4 separate regions of the Homo sapiens genome follow, and regions 2, 3 and 4 are each linked to region 1. A link means that fine-mapping ties the variant in region 1 to the plasma level of a protein whose gene starts in the linked region. Region 1 holds a variant in brackets. A gene starts in each other region. All regions are shown on their reverse strands.

What was found. A credible set is the group of variants that fine-mapping cannot tell apart. PIP is the chance, under the fine-mapping model, that this variant and not a neighbour inherited with it causes the effect. The UK Biobank Pharma Proteomics Project read protein levels with antibody pairs (Olink). The fine-mapping took linkage between variants from a reference panel, not from the people measured, so its PIPs are less certain.
Region 2: it holds the start of HSD11B1, and the variant in region 1 is the best candidate, but not a certain one, in a credible set for the plasma level of the HSD11B1 protein (UK Biobank, PIP 0.90).
Region 3: it holds the start of INSR, and the variant in region 1 is the best candidate, but not a certain one, in a credible set for the plasma level of the INSR protein (UK Biobank, PIP 0.53).
Region 4: IL18R1 starts here. The variant in region 1 is the best candidate, but not a certain one, in a credible set for the plasma level of the IL18R1 protein (UK Biobank, PIP 0.59).

What each region holds. Positions count from the first base shown.
Region 1 is chr17:66,212,447-66,216,446 of GRCh38, reverse strand. It overlaps APOH (apolipoprotein H), which reads left to right. Exons shown (of 8, transcript NM_000042.3): 7 at 1,797-1,994. Among named protein-coding and RNA genes, the nearest start is that of APOH, 15 kb to the left of the region's middle. The variant T/G (reference allele first, on the strand shown) is at 1,985.
Region 2 is chr1:209,702,353-209,706,614 of GRCh38, reverse strand. HSD11B1 (hydroxysteroid 11-beta dehydrogenase 1) reads right to left here and starts at 1,769. Exons shown (of 6, transcript NM_005525.4): 1 at 1,585-1,769; 2 at 674-804. The coding sequence starts at 1,672. All of the region lies in intron 1 of HSD11B1-AS1 (HSD11B1 antisense RNA 1), which reads left to right.
Region 3 is chr19:7,292,480-7,296,741 of GRCh38, reverse strand. It overlaps INSR (insulin receptor), which reads left to right and starts at 2,328. Exons shown (of 22, transcript NM_000208.4): 1 at 2,328-2,950. The coding sequence starts at 2,851. RefSeq lists silencers at 1,747-1,926, 2,067-2,456, 2,477-2,756, 2,897-3,036, 3,087-3,146 and an enhancer at 3,128-3,886.
Region 4 is chr2:102,354,124-102,358,123 of GRCh38, reverse strand. IL18R1 (interleukin 18 receptor 1) reads right to left here and starts at 2,328. Exons shown (of 11, transcript NM_003855.5): 1 at 1,724-2,328. RefSeq lists silencers at 2,274-2,333, 2,354-2,463 and an enhancer at 2,058-2,559.

The sequences.
Region 1 (4,000 bases):
AATGGCGTGATCTCGGCTCACTGCCACCTCTGCCTCCCGGGTTCAAGCAATTCTCCTACCTCAGCCTCCCGAGTAGCTGGGATTACAGGCACCCCACCACCACACCTGGCTAATTTTTGTATTTTTAATAGAGATGGGGCTTTGCCACGTTGGCCAGGCTAATTTCGAACTCCTGACCTCAGGTGATCCGCCCGCCTCGGCCTCTGTAGAGAAGAGCTTTTCTTCCATCCATCATTTTTTAGTATTATTGTAGACACATGGAGTCTTTTTTTTTTTTTTTGAGATGGAGTCTCACTCTGTTGCCTAGCTGGAGTGTAATGGTAGAATCTCAGTTCCCTGCAACCTTCACCTCCCAGGTTCGAGTGATTACAGATGTGAGCCACCATGCCCACCCCTTTTTGTGCTCTGTCTAGCCAAGGCTCTTCTCATTGCAAAAACCAACCACACATTCGAGTGAGTTCAAGGAAATTGGGGATATTATAAGGAGGCAACAGGCAAGTCGATCATGTGGGCATTGAAGATGAAGACATGAAATACAACTGATACTCCTGAAGATTGGAACTGAAAGGCAGGAACTATTCCTACTTTTTCCGTATCTCAATGGTCTCTCCCATTTCCGTCTCTCTGCTTATTCATCTTGAACATGGCTTGATATACACCAGACCCTCTCAGTTACAGGATTCATCACCAACTGGCATCTTTCCTGGAGACACTGGTTCCTTTTGAGTTAGGTGTCTACCCTTGATCCCATCAGTGTCATGCATAAGTAAAGAACAACAACAGCCTAGCATTAGAACTCTGCTCAGGTCACTATGGGCTGGACAGTTTAAGCAGAAAGAGGAACTCTGGGGCAGCAGGCAAGATGACAAATAACTAGCATCTTAGGTTACAGTTCCCTAGAAGCAGAGCCTGAGACGGGGATTCGAGTACAGTTGATTTAGTGAATGTCTCAGGAGAAGAAAGAGTGAGGCAGATTTGCGAGGGTAAGGCACCGGTTCTCAAACTTCGCTGTGGATCAGCAACACCTGGAAGGCTTGTTTTAACACAGGATTTTTGAGCTCCACTCTTAGAGTTTCTGATTTGGTAGATCTGGGATGGGGCCTGACAATTTGCATTTATGCCAGGTTCCCTGGTGATGCTAATGCTGCCGAGCCAGGGAGAAATGTGGTCTCTGCTAAAATGAGGTTCAGTTTGATCCCACTGGGAGCTCTGGAGTGTGAATTCCACCCTTGAGTTAATCCCACTAAGAGCCAAGGGGACCTGCTTTTTATATTCCCTCATCAGTCAGTCTTTGGCTTTGAGCTGCTCCCTTCCCTGACCCTGGGGGTGGTTTGCATAAACTCCTGGGAGAGGTGGCTTCCCTATGGCTGAAGGCAATTTTTCAGAGTATTTATGAGCTGTTATCAGCCAACACTCACAATGGCTGGTGGATAGATGCACCTGCTTAATGAATGCAATCTGAGAGGGCAGAGTAGGCTTACATGAAATGTCAATATCTGTTAGTTGCTTTTTTTTTTTTTTTTCACTGAAATGGAGGCTCTGATGCTTCTGTTCTGACCTTCTGTGGCTACTGTAGGGGAAGAGAAGGCCATCTTGGAAGCTATGAATAATGGTTCTATTGACAGAGAACTGCAATTAGCAATCATATTACCATTACTTACTATATATATTCTTGGATTTTTCTTGCCTTGACCAATTTGTGTAGGTGTACTCATCTACTGTTTCAAATGCTATACTCTCTTTCAGAAAGACTTCCTGAACTCTTAAGTCCTGATTACAAGTATTCTCTCTTTCAGCATCTTGTAAAGTACCTGTGAAAAAAGCCACTGTGGTGTACCAAGGAGAGAGAGTAAAGATTCAGGAAAAATTTAAGAATGGAATGCTACATGGTGATAAAGTTTCTTTCTTCTGCAAAAATAAGGAAAAGAAGTGTAGCTATACAGAGGATGCTCAGTGTATAGATGGCACTATCGAAGTCCCCAAA[T/G]GCTTCAAGGGTAAGTCTGCATTGGAACGTTTAGCTAGGACTCCCACTTGCCCGTCATCATAATCAGAGCCTTTGTTCTATAATGATTGTCAAAAACCAGATGAGGCCAGGTGCGGTGGGTCACGCCTGTAATCCCAGCACTTTGGGAGGCTGAGGCGGGTGGATCACCTGAGGTCACGAGTTTGAGAGCAGCCTGGCCAAAAAGGTGAAAGTCTGTCTCTACTAAAAATACAAAAATTAATTGCTGTGGTGCCGGGTGCCTGTAATCGCAGCTACTTGGGAGGCTGAGGCAGGAGCATCACTTGAACCTGGGAGGTGGAGGTTGCAGTGAGCCGAGATCGCGCCATTGCACTCCAGCCTGGGCAACAGAGCGAAACTCCGTCTCAAAACAAAAACAAACAAAACACAGATGAATTTGGCCACTGGGTTTTTAAAAAGAGGGGTGAGAGGGAGAAACAATGATATGAAGCAGTGAGCTGCAGATGGCGTCCCCACTTGCATTTTCCTTTCCAATTTTTTTTTTTTTTGAGACAAGGTCTCACTGTCACCCAGGCTGAAGTGCAGTGTTGCGATCACATCTCATTGCAGCCTCTACTTTCTGGGCTCAAGTGACCCTTTCACCTCAGCCTTCTGAGTAGCTGAGATTACATGCACGCACCACCATGTCCAGCTATTTTTTATATTTTTATTAGAGAAGAGATTATGCCATGTTGCCAAGGCTGGTTTTGAACCCTTGGACTCAAGCAATCCACCTGTCTCAGTCTCCCAAAGTGCCAGGATTACAGGCATGAGCTACGCGCCCAGCCTCTTTTCTAAGTCTTTTCTGTAAAACTCAGGGTTGTGGTTATATTCAATGAATGCTGAGGTGAATGATGCCATCTTGTATAATTCCAAGTTGAGCTTGAATAATAATGAACCAAATATTGAATAATAAAATATCTACCTCATCTTGGTCCCACATTATAGAGAACTCACCCCAAGTGACAAAACAACTCATGGCAATGATAATTGGTCTAAAGATCTAACATTTCCCCTTTCTCAAGCAATTCGTAGAGTTTGAAAAGTATCCATTAGAGCAAAGTATCCATTAGAGCAAAATATTTTAAGGAGAATGATACCAGGTTTGTGTGAGATAAAGAAGTGTGTAATGGCCAGCGTTTAGAGCTGCTAACCTTTTAAGGTTTCAGATTTAGGGTTGAAATGTCTCTGATGCCAGAAAGTAAGAACCAGCCAGAGGCTGAAGCTGTCCTTGGCTCTAGGTTTAGAAATCTTTCAAAAACATTGACAATCTTGTTTTAGCAGGTGGGAGAGGACAGTAGGGAGCAGACAAAGCTAAGAAGAGAGGAGTCTGAGAAGTGTCCAGCTAGTGGGAGAGAAGGGAATGATAACTGATTAAAAATACCCACCTCATGGGGTTGGTTTGATTATTAGAAATATGCATGACATGGAGGAATATAATTTTAATTGTAAATAGTTACAAATGCACTGAATAAATTGCCATTATTCAAAAGACAGCAGAGCCCTGGTGAGATGTTAAATACAAAACATGACAAAATACAATAAGCTTAAATAAAAATCAGTAGAAAAAATGTGAGAAAAGAATAATTGAAAAAAGTCTTAGCTTTGTTGATATATTTCTTCAGGATCTTCTCCCTTATGGTCTTTGGACAGATGCAGTACTGTAAAGGGCCGATACTGTTTTTTCCCCTTTAATCTTGACTGTTATAGAACAGTCTTCACTGTATATAGAACCTTTAATTTTATCTCTTGAAAATGAGGATCTTGGCCAGGCGCAGTGGCTCACACTTGTAATCCCAGCACTTTGGGAGGCCAAGGCGGGCGGATCACTTGAGGTCAGGAGGCCAGCCTGGCCAACATGGTGAAACCCAGTCTCTACTAAAAATACAAAGATTAGCCAGGCATGGTGGCACGTGCCTGTAGTCCCAGCTACTCGGGAGGCTGAGACAGGAGAATCACTTGAACCTGGGAGGTAGAGGTTGCAGTGAGCTGAGATTG
Region 2 (4,262 bases), not on the chromosome of region 1:
ACAGCCCTGTTTAGGTAAGAAATGGTAAGTATGTTTGTGTGTGTGTTGCCTAATATAACCCTCATGATCATCGTCCTCTGTCTGAAATATTTTCTGGAACTTGGTGGGGTTCAAATGGATAAATCATCCCAGTGCTGGGGTTTAAGTTCATGATTTATGCTCATGGCTTCTGTGAATAGGCATTTCTGAGGGCATTATGAGTGTAGATGCTGGTTACTATGTGGGTAGCTCTAGGTTTGTGAATGTTTGTACATCCTTGGGTTTGTGAGTCCATGAGAGGGCATGTGTCTGGGAGTCTGCATGGGTATGAGGATATGTATTCATAAGCAGGTACTGGGATTTCAGTTTTTGAAAACATCCGTATGTATCTGTAGTTCCATGTGTAAATGTGTGTGACTAGGCATGTCTGTGAGCATATATAACTCAAGGACTCTGTTGCAGAATATATTACACACACACACATGAATGAATGCTTAAATGCATACTTTTATATTCCTGTGGGTTTTTTGGTGTTTGAATCTATATATGAGAGTGCAAAATTAAGTGTCTGTGTGTGTGCATGTGCCTCTGTATATAGATCTGCGATATGCTAGCTTCTGTGTATATGTGAGCATATATAAGAACACATCTGAGCATGTGACGGTACACATATCTGCGAGCATAGAACCCTCACCTTCTGTAGAGTTTCTTTTGACCTCGCTGTCACCACCACATGGGCTCCCATCTTCGCCAGATGATAAGCCATCTCTCTTCCGATCCCTTTGCTGGCCCCTGTGACAATCACTTTCTTTCCTTGGAGCATCTCTGGGGAACCCCAAAAGGAAGTGAGGACCATACCCAAGTTGGCAGCAAAATTCCTTCTCCCTCTCTGGATATAGGCATGCTTATCGCAATTTGTAACTTAAAGGTTATGAGCCCAGATCAGTTTGTCACAAACTCCGTAAATCACTGTGGGAACAGGCCAGGTCTTTCATAAACATGCTCTGAAGTGGGAGGTTTGGGCTGACAGCCTCCCTACTGTCATTTCTAAAAACCTCCATGGAAAGAGATCATAGGATGAAGCCAGAAAAGTCATGGTTCAGCTAAAATGCTGGAGTTCCAGACATTTCTGGACTCTTTCAATTTTGCTCAATTGAAAGTACATTTAACAAGGAATCAAAACACATGTGTTCATAGAAATTCCAGGGATTTTCCCTCACTTCTATGTAGTCATCATCTCCAGTTTTTTTTTTTTTTTTTTTTGCCTCCCACTTATCAGTCTCTTCATAGAGCCCAATTAGCTGCTGAGTTGTGAATTTGGGTATTACTCTCATTTTTGTAGAAGATTTGAAACTGCTTTCCATTAAGGGTGCCAAATAAAGCATGGCCTATTTGGCTAGATTTTGGCTACACGATTACCCTTCCTACACAGTCCCCCCTGTCCACAGCCTGTAGCTGGAGGACACAAAAATACCATCTTAACTCAGGGTTCCCTCATTTTCACCAACTTTGAGGATCAAGAACACATCTTGGTCCTCAGGAACACTCAAGCACCCCTGTGTTTTTTAAACCTATTCCTCCAAAATGAGACGCATGGGTACTTACCTGGTCTGAATTCCTCGTTTGCAGAATAGTAGTAGTAGGCCATGAAGAGCCCCAGAATGGGGAGGAGATATTTTTTCATAAAAGCCATCCGACAGGGAGCTGGCCTGAAGACTCCTGTAGGACACACAGAGAGAACCTACAGAGCTTTCTACAACCTCCTAAGCAGGCAGCAGCCTCTGAATTGTGACATCAGGGACGGGGGAGGCTGGAGTAGTCTCAGGCAGTGCTAGCCAATTTCCCTGTCAGAGCAGCGATTGGCTTTGGGTGGGATCCCATTCGTCCCTGGCAGCCTGTGTGGTGGATTTCATAATGGACAATGTTTACTCCATTTCATTGAGCAAGAGGAGACTTCCAGATGGCCAAGCTCATGACTGTACAGGACTGGATTCCTGAGCATCCCTACCCGAGTCCATCTTACTCTTAACACCATTTACGCCAGGGATCAATGATCTTTCAAAAGTAATTTGTCAAAGACAGAGAGAGAGGAGTGCATGTAGGGCTTCTGGGGGGAAATGTGAGTAATAGCAAAGAGAGCCAAACTCAAGCCAAATCTCACTCTCAGTCCCCCTACCCCCCCACCCAGTGGGAAGCAATTAAAAATAACAGCACAAAACAGCAAAATAAGCTTAAGAAAAAAAATGTGCACATTTTGGGAAAAAATAATGAAAGCAAAGAAGCTCTATAAGCCCCACACTCAAGTTCAATGAAAAAGTATTACAACATCAAAGGAGAAATTGCAAGCCAGCCAGAACCCAGATGGCGGGAAATCCAAGACTGGTTCAAGACTCTAAGGCAAGTGCAATGGATCATACACTTATTATTTTAACAGAGAACAAAGAAGAAATAATGAGTGACAAAAAAGGCACTAAACTATTAAACTGGGTCTTGTAAATGCTGTAGAGCAACAAGAAACATGGAGAAGATGCTAGGAAGAGGCGACCTGATGTAGAAGAAAAAAGAACTAGCATTAGGCAAGTGAAACTAGCTGGGGACGCCCACACCAGCTAAAAATAGATCTAGTAACAGTAAAAGGACGAGGGTGGTAAGAAACCCTTAGCAATTTAGAATTTATTATCAGGGAAATATAAAAATAACCACCTCAGTATGTCCGTAGCACGAATTCATTAAGGAATAATCCTCAAAGAAAGAATTTAAGATGTATCATTGTTAAGTTTTTCAACTCAAAACCAACCAATCAACTCATGGAAATTACCCCATCACAATGCAGTCCTGCATTCTGTAAGTTATCAGTAGAGCGGGGAAAAAATTTAAATGTGATAATAAGTATCAGTGCTTTGGAGGAGGGATAGGAGTTGGGAGTAGTGGGGGGACAGAATTTACACAAGGTTAAGGGAAATTAAGTTATGATTCCAAGTGCAGTATCTGGAAACATTCATCAAATTTTCACTTTAGAGTAAGAGAAAATAATTTAAGACCCAGAGGAGATGAAACAATTTGTCAACAAAGGCCCACAGCTGTGAGGGTCACTTGTAGAAAACAATGGAGATTTGAGAACAGTTGAGGGCTAGACAGAGCTCGAGGTCTATGAAGGACAAAAAGAGAAAAAAGATAAAATTCAAGTAAAAATTAGATTACATGCCTTTAGAACTGCAAGCTACATTTGTATAATTTTATAAATATATTTATGATACCAGGATATATTACAGACTACACTCCATTTTCATCCCTAGAGGGAAGGCAGTGCCAGCCAGAACCCAGATAAGGTTTATTTTCTTAATCCTATACTATTAATAGTAAAATTATAGGAAACAATGAAAAGTTATTTGGAAATATGATGATGTTGAAATGATAGAAAGATGGGCAGACTAGGGATGTTTATTGTCTGACATAAAAAATAAATAAAGAATTTTAAAGTCCATTAAGAAAACATAAATTTAAAGAAAGCAAAAATAACAATGAGTAAGATAAACTGCAGAGTAATAGAACACAAAGCAAATGCATTAACAATTGCTGATTGTTGGCTCCATTAAAAAATGAAGTCCAACATTGTGTGGCCTCAAAAGACACATTTAAACCCAAAGACACAAACAGATTAATAATTAGATGACCTAATAGCTACGATGCTAGAAAATAAGGATATGGCAAAAGCATCCAATAAAGTGAGTTTCATGGGATTAGATAAAATAATTGCTATATAAAATGCATTGATGAGAAACAAGGACACTGTGTAATGGTAGTTGATGCATTAAATCTTACCAGTTCTCAAATTTTTGGTCTCAGGACCCTTGTATACTCTTAATAATTTCCAAGGACCTCAAAGAACTTTTGCCTGTGTAGGTTTTACCTATTGATATTGCTATTGCAATTTATGCATTAGAAATTAAGACTGAGGATTTTTTTCTAAAGCTCAAGAATACATAAGCATACATTCCATTAGCATTCAGGGCAGTGGCATTAGCATACATCCTGTAGCCTCTGGAAAAGTCAGGTAATGTCTTAGTATAATTATGAAAATAGTTTTGACCTTTCAACCCTTCAAGAGGGTCTCAGAGACCCATGGGGACCACACTTTGACCATATTATATAATAAACATCTAATCCACTTTGTGTCCATATTTACATGGCTGGTTCTCTCATTAGCTTGTAAACTCCTGGAGGACATAGATTATGTCTTTTTCATCTTTGTCTCTTTCCATTTCCCACTAGCCTTGCTCCAA
Region 3 (4,262 bases), not on the chromosome of region 1:
GAGACAGGCAGATCTCTTGAGGTCAGGAGTTCAAGACCAGCCTGTCCAATATGGTGAAACCCTGCCTCTACTAAAAATACAAAAATTAGGCAGGCGTGGTGGCATGCACCTGTAATCCCAGCTACTCTGGAGGCTGAGGCAGGAGAATTGCTTGAACCTGGGAGGCGGAGGTTGCAGTGAGCCAAGATCGTGCCACTGCACTCCAGCCTGGGCAACAGAGTAAGATCCATCAAAAAACAAACAAACAAAAAACCCCATGTCCTCAGCAAACCCCTCCCTATGCACCTCCCATTTCCCTCAGCTCATTACACACTCAATTATTTTAAGGGCTCTCTCCCTGGCTCAGTTGTGAACTCCATAAGGAAATGGGTCATGTTTATTTTGCTCACTGAAAAATCCCCTATTACTTATTGCTTGTTGATTCTCCCACTCAACAAATATTTATTAAGCAACAGATTTGTCAGGCACTGGGTTTAAGCAGTGAAACAAGACCGAAAAGATTTCCGCCTTCACGGGAAGGGGAGAAGACACAGAAAACGAATAAGAATTTCAAGGCCAATCATGGTGGCGCATGCCTGTAATCCTAGCACCTTGGGAGGCCAAGGCAGGAGGATTGCTTGAGGCCAGGAGTTCAAGGCTGCAGTAAGCTAGGATTGCACCACTGCATTCCTGCCTGGGTGACAGCAAGATTCTGTCAAAAGGAAAAAAAAAGAAAGAAAAGAAAAAAAAAAAACAAACAATTGCAGGTAGTGGGGTAAACATGCTATGAAAATGAGAGAGAAGGGGCCAGGCGCAGTGGCTCAGGCCTGTAATCCCAGCACTTTGGGAGGCCAAGGCCGGTGGATCACCTGAGGTCAGGAGTTTGAGACCGGCCAGGCCAACATGGTGAAATCCTGTCTCTACTAAAAATACAGAAAATTAGCTGGGTGTGCTGGCGCATGCCTGTAATCCAAGTTACTTGGGAGGTTGAGGCAGGAGAATCACTTGAACCCAGGCAGGTGATGTTGCAGTGAACTGAGATCTGGCCATTGCACTCCAGCCTGGGCAACAGAGAAAAACTCCATCTAAAAAAAAAAAAAAAAAAAAAAAAAAAAAAAAAAAAAAAAAAACAGAGAGAGAGAGAGAGAGAAGGAAACGGAACTGGGGGGAGGATTTGCAAAAATATGGTTAGGGATGGCACTTCAGAGATGAAGCCATCCTGGAGTGTTACGGGCAAGGGAAATGCTGGGGCAAAGGCCCAGAGGCAGGAATAGGTTTGGCCTGTTGCATGAACAGTGGGTCCAGCTCCTAGCAAACTGTTTATTGAATGAAAGAAGAATGAATGCCTTGGGTCTAGGGTTGTGCTGGGCGCTTTCTTAAGTTTTCTTTCCCGGGTACCTCCCCAGAACTGGCATGCAGGTATTATTAAACCCATTACACAAGTGAAACTGGCCCAGAGACAGAAAAGTCCCTGGTCCAAGACCACACAGGAGTGAGGGGTGGAGGAACCCTCCTCCCATTGAGTTCTGGCTTTCCTATACTGAAAGCCCCTTCCTCTCCTGCAGTAAGGTAGGTGGAACCGCTGTCCCGCCTTGTTGGTGAATGTCGTTGCTAGACTTCAGACACATACAGGCTGGTCTGCTGAAAATCAGAGATGTCCACCTGCGCCCTATTCGAGGTCTCCGGCGTCTTCTTTGGCGTCGTCTTTGCCCTTTCAGAAGCGTCTGCACATTTTTCCAGGTGTCATTTCTCCAACTTGAACACAGGGAGCGCACTGGGCACGCGGGCACGTGGCTGTCCCCAGGGGCCTGGCTTGGGTCTCGCCCCTGGGCCGGGGCGCACTCGCGGGCGGGACATCTGGGGGCGCCCACGCGCTCTGGGACGAGTGTCGCTGGCCAGGCCCGGACTGAGGAAAGGCGAGTGAGACACTACTCGCCTGGGGTGCAAAATTTAAGGGAGTGAAAAAAAAAAAAAAAGAAAGAAACCAAAACCACCTCGAGTCACCAAAATAAACATTTTAATGCAGTATTTTTTAAAAAATCAACAGGAATCCTCCAAAGCCCACTATGAACAAAATAGCAAAATGGTAGAGAAAGGATCTGTGCCGCTGCGTCGGGCCTGTGGGGCGCCTCCGGGGGTCTGAAACTGGAGGAGACTCGGGGCTGTAGGGCGCGCGGATCTGGGGCGCGCCCTCGGTCCCGGCGCGCCCAGGGCCTCCCGCGCGGGGCCCGGCACAGGGAGGCGGGGAGGCGGGCGGGGCGGGGCGGGGCCGGGCGGCACCTCCCTCCCCTGCAAGCTTTCCCTCCCTCTCCTGGGCCTCTCCCGGGCGCAGAGTCCCTTCCTAGGCCAGATCCGCGCCGCCTTTTCCCGCGGCCCGCACGGGGCCCAGCTGACGGGCCGCGTTGTTTACGGGCCCGAGCAGCCCTCTCTCCCGCCGCCCGCCCGCCACCCGCCAGCCCAGGTGCCCGCCCGCCAGTCAGCTAGTCCGTCGGTCCGCGCGTCCCTCTGTCCCGGAGCCCGCAGATCGCGACCCAGAGCGCGCGGGGCCGAGAGCCGAGAGACAGTCCCGGGCGCAGCGCGGAGCTCCGGGCCCCGAGATCCTGGGACGGGGCCCGGGCCGCAGCGGCCGGGGGGTCGGGGCCACCACCGCAAGGGCCTCCGCTCAGTATTTGTAGCTGGCGAAGCCGCGCGCGCCCTTCCCGGGGCTGCCTCTGGGCCCTCCCCGGCAGGGGGGCTGCGGCCCGCGGGTCGCGGGCGTGGAAGAGAAGGACGCGCGGCCCCCAGCGCCTCTTGGGTGGCCGCCTCGGAGCATGACCCCCGCGGGCCAGCGCCGCGCGCTCTGATCCGAGGAGACCCCGCGCTCCCGCAGCCATGGCCACCGGGGGCCGGCGGGGGGCGGCGGCCGCGCCGCTGCTGGTGGCGGTGGCCGCGCTGCTACTGGGCGCCGCGGGCCACCTGTACCCCGGAGAGGGTGAGTCTGGGGGCGCGGGCGTGGGCGGGGAGCGCCGCGATGGGGAGAGGACCCCACCCAAGCCAAAATCGAGCCCCCGCTTGTGGACTGAGAACCCTCCCCAGGGGCGGGGGGCGGTGGCCAGGACGGTAGCTCCTGCATCGCGTAGGGGGAGCGGGAAGCCTCTGACCTTGGCCTTTGCCCGCCCGGGCTCGCGCCTCCGCGCCCTGCGTGCCCGACCTGAGCCCGAGGAACCTTGCCCCGGTGCCCGCCCCGCCGCGGGCTCCTCTCTGGAGCGCGCCTCCGACCCGTGCCCCGGCCCCTCCGAGCCCAAGTCGCTCCGGAGACACGACACGCGTCATCTTTGGGTCGCGGCCGGGAAGTGGGGTCACTGGGTCTGGACAGCCCCGAACAGCCAAGTCCCCCGAGCGCATATGGTGTAGGTAGAGCCAAGCGCCCTGAGTGCCTCACCGGTGGGTGACGCTGCCTGGGGTCAGGGACTGCAGAGCCCCCCTCTACCCAACTACCTTGGATCTAGGCCCGTGGCCACCCCGGACTCTAGGTCCATGTTTACCCTTTTGGGTTCTGTTTCCAGATGTCCGGAGGCAAATTCTAAAGCCTTAGCAACAGCAGCAATTGTAGCAGAAGTAGTGGCGGTTTTTTACCCTATTTATTGTAATTGGTATCACCGCACGCCACAGCCTAGTCTATCTTATCTCTCTGGACTGTCACAGTGGCCCCCGGAGGCAGATACAGTTATGCACCCATTTCACAGAGGAGTAAACTGAGGCTCATGTAGGACGCATAACTCCCTTGCCCTAAAGTCAGTGCCAGAGCCAGGACTTGAGCCTCTGTGTGTCCCGTTCTGCCCAAGAATCTGGACTACTGTCCCTTGTCTGCTGTCTCCTTGACCCCTCCTCTCCCCTCAGCCCTGCGCTTCATGAAGGAGCCTTTGACCTTGAGTGAGCCTTTCGTTCCCCCTGACCCCATGGGCCCCTCTCCCACGTGTGGGCAGCATCTTCCTTGGGCTTGACAATAGGCACCTTTGGGGTTGTAAGATGAAGATGGCGCAATCATTTAAGGAATATAGCCTGGGTTTCCCACTGTGGGGTCTGAGGCCCTGCTTTAAAAATATCTGTTGGGTTACTGTTTCAGATTTCTCCATAAAAGGAAATCAGTCGTGATGAGGAAGGGGTCAGGGAGGGAAGGAATTGAAGCTCTTAAATGTATTGATGGGGAAACGGGTGCATGTAAAATCAGGTGCTAGAGTGGACCAACCGGGTTTGCTGAGTCGACTCTGTCAATCACATAATGTCTAAAAGCCCCGGGCCCA
Region 4 (4,000 bases), not on the chromosome of region 1:
AGGACACACATGAATCAATGTAGATGCCTCAATATAAATCACTCATTAGCAACACATACAATCGAGCAACTCCTGAGACAAAATGCCTGGATGAAAATCATAACACCAGTTTTTTTTTAATATAATTTTTCTTCTACAGTGTTCCATGCATAGTCGTTTTACTCAGCCTGTGAGATGATAAAACAACCAAATGCAAAGAGGAGAAAATGATCTTGGGGCATAACATACACACACACACACACGCTTAAACTCTAACAAACAAAATAATTTGTGTGGAATCTGGCTTCTCATCTGTAAGGCCAAGAAAATCAATGCCACCTCATAGTCCTTGTCACACAAGTGTCTGTTGTTAGCCTTATGCTTCCCCCCAAATCTGCCTATGCCTGTGCTACCTGGGCCACCCTCCCCACTTATCCCAGATGCCAGGTCCCTAGAGTCCTTTCAACTTGGCTCAGTATTTGCCTTCTCAAGGAAGCTCTCCAACTGCAACAGCCCCAAATGGCACATGCCTATGTCCAAGCCCGTCTCCATCACTCTGCAGGTGTTTCCATCACTCCTGGACTAGCTCCCACTCTCTGGTGAGGTCCCTGAAGGCAGGGACCCTGCCTTTTCTTTTTTTTCTTTTTTTTTTTTGAGATAGAGTCTCACTCTGTCGCCCAGGCTGGAGTGCAGTGGCACAATCTCTGCTCACTGCAACCTCTGCCTCCCAGGTTCAAGGGATTCTCCTGCCTCAGCCTCCCGAGTAGCTGGGATTACAGATGCATGCCACCATGCCTGGCTAATTTTCTGTATTTTTAGTAGAGACGGGGTTTCACCATGTTAGCCAGGATGGTCTCGATCTCCTGACCTCATGATCCGCCCACCTCAGCCTCCCAAGTGCTGGGATTTAGACCCTGCCTTTTCAATCCACATTCCTAGGCCTTAGCCTTAGTTCTCAGCCTTTGGATGTATATTTGTGCAGGGAGAGGGAAAACACTGTCCCCAGAACCTGCACAAACCCAATTCCCCAAATTTACCCCTCCTAGCCCATCCAAGGCCCTGAGGTTGAGAGGTGTGCTCCCAATAGCAGCACTGTGTATGACACAAAATCAGTATTTGCAAAGGGTCTTGAGAATGAAGCAAGGGAAGTCAGTGAAATGAATACAATAATCTTGGATCTCTGTATCTGGCTGCAATTGACACCTCATTAATTTGTCTGATAACTGCGATGCAAGGTGCTGGGCATTTTAACTTCCCAAGGCTGGGCAGAAAAAAGACAAAGGCTCTGGAATCAGAAAAACTGTAGGTGTGGATCTGGGATCTACTACTTAGTAGCTGGATACTCTTGGGTAAATGACGGAATTCCTCCTCCCTTTTATTAAAGCATAATAATAGTTCCTATTTCATGTGGCCCTTAGGAGGATTAAGTGAAAATAAGATATCTAAAAATTTTCTACAGTGTCAGGCACACAGTAAGCACTTAAAAAATGACAACTATTGTTATCATTTATTTCAGTCGTTCTCACCTCTCCAGAAAATAATTGGGGATGTCTTAATTTCTAAAACTATACTTTCAGAGAAAGACAGGATGCTGTCTCATCAATTATTCACACGTATTCACACACACACTATCTCTCTCTCTCTCTTAATTGATCTTGTTTTGAGAATCCCTCCCCGGATGGTGGTCTTCCCTTCCTCTGGGGGGTGGGGAGGGGATGCGGGTGGCAGCGGAGCCCACCCTTACCTTCAGAGAGGCGTCCCCGAGGCTGGGGCGGGGGCGGCAGCTCCTCCTTCACGCCAGGTCGCGACTGCGGAGGCCAAGTTCAGAAAGTAGGTGAGAAGCAGCGATCTCCGCCTCCTGACTACCGTGGAAAGTGAAAGAGAGGTGTGATTAAAGAGATAAGGCACCCAGAGAGGGCTACAAAAAAAAAAAAAAAGAAGAAGAAGGAAAAAAAGTAGGAACAGAAAGAAGAATGTCAGGCGTCTGGCAGCTCCTGGCTGCTAACCCCGGCCGGTGGAGGCTGCAGGTGGGCACTGCCCGCGGTCGGGCGAAGCTCCGGGTCCGGGAGTGTAGCGGTCTGGGGCGCTCTCAGTCTGGGGCGCTCCCTGGCGTAGAATCCTCCCTGACTCGGAGGTCCCGGTCTGGGGACCCTCCGGTCCGGGTGCTCCTCGCAGCCGTGCTCCAGGACCGGCTCCTCCACCCAGACGCCCCGCGTGGAGTTACCGGAGCTACTGGATCGCGGGGTCCAAAGGTTGCTGCTGGAAAACCCAGCGCCTTGCCCTTTTCCCGCGGACGGCGTGGGCCCCAGGCGTCTGGCGCTTCCTGCCCAGCCGCGCGGCGCGGGTCCCGGGAAAACCCGGGCTGTAGCCGGGTGACCTGCGGGGCCGGAAGGGGGCGCGCCCGGGCCGCTCGCAAGCACCCTGCAGGCCGCGGTTCACAGCAGAGGATGCCAGGAGGGAGGACCGCTGGCCGCAGCGGCCGCCCGGCTCTTCAGAGGAAGAGGAGGGGAGGGCTGAGGGTGGAAGAGGGGTCCCCGGGGGATGCCGAAGGTGAGAGGGGCTCCGCGTCTCAAGTACACAAATGCGCCCCAGGCTTTTTGCTTTCCCAGAAGGATGGGAGTTCACTATAGGGAAGTAATAGAGAGGGGTGCAATTGTTGAAGTTTTAATTTTTTTTAAGGAGGCCAAAGGGGAATGTGTGTTTCTAGATTTTTATTTTGTGGCAGAACTGTTATTTAACCAAAGGAAAAGGGAAACCCATAGCCGACAGGCAAAATGTTCAATTGGACAATGATTTTAATTCTTTTTACCCAATTTAGATAATTCACCACATAATAAATAAAAATATGTAATTATCTCAATAAATGCAAATAAAAGCATCTGGCAAAATTCAACACCCTTTCTGAATTAATAACGATCAGAAAACCGAGAGTAGAAATGATCTTTCTTAATCTGATAAAGAACATCTATAAGAAACCTACAGGTGACCTCATAATAGTGAAACATTTTACTTTTTCCTAAGATTAGTAATGAGATAAGGATTTTGGCTCCCACCTGGGACAACTGCTTTGCAACAAGTGAAGAAATAAAAATAAAATTAGAAAGCATAAAGATTGAGAAGAAAGAATTAAAACTACTGGTTTTAACAGAGAGCATAATTATATGTAGACCAACTTTTGAAATCTACAAAAAAAAAAACTACTGGAAATATTAAGTTTATCAAGATCATGGAATATAAAAATCAATAGCAATTCTATATATTAGAGATGGAAACTTGAAAAGTGAAGTTTGTTAAAAATGCCATTTACCATAGCATTTAAAAATCAAAATACCAAAGTATAAATTCATTGGATAATATATGAGATATCTCCTGTGAAAACTACAAAATATTGCTAACAGAGATGAAACATCTAAGTAATAAAGGGATATACCACGTTTACGGATTGGAAGACTTAAGACATCTATTCTCCACACTGTATATTTTTAGACTCTATATATTACAGAATCTATATATTTAATACAATTCAATCCAAATCCCAGGAAAATTTTTCAAAGAAATTAAGAAGCTGTTTCTAAAATTCATATGAAAATGCAAATAATCTAGGATTGTCCGGACAGAGACGGAGTTTTGCTCTTCTTGCCCAGGCTGGAGTGAGTGCAATGACGCGATCTCGGCTCACTGCAACCTCCGCCTCCCGGGTTCAAGCGATTCTCCTGCCTCAGCCGCCCGAGTAGCTGGGATTACAGGCATGCACTATCACGCCTGGCTACTTTTGTATTTTTAGTAGAGACAGGGTTTCTCCGTGTTGGTCAGGCTGGTTTTGAACTCTCGACCTCAGGTGATCCACCCATTTCAGCCTCCCAAAGTGTTGAAATTACAGGGGTGAGCCACCTGCCCGGCCTGTCTGGGCAATCTTGACAAAGATGAACAAAGTTGAGAGACTTATACTGACTTGAGGATTTATAATAAGGCAATAGTAATTATGGCAATGTGATATTCACAGAAACATACAAACATACAA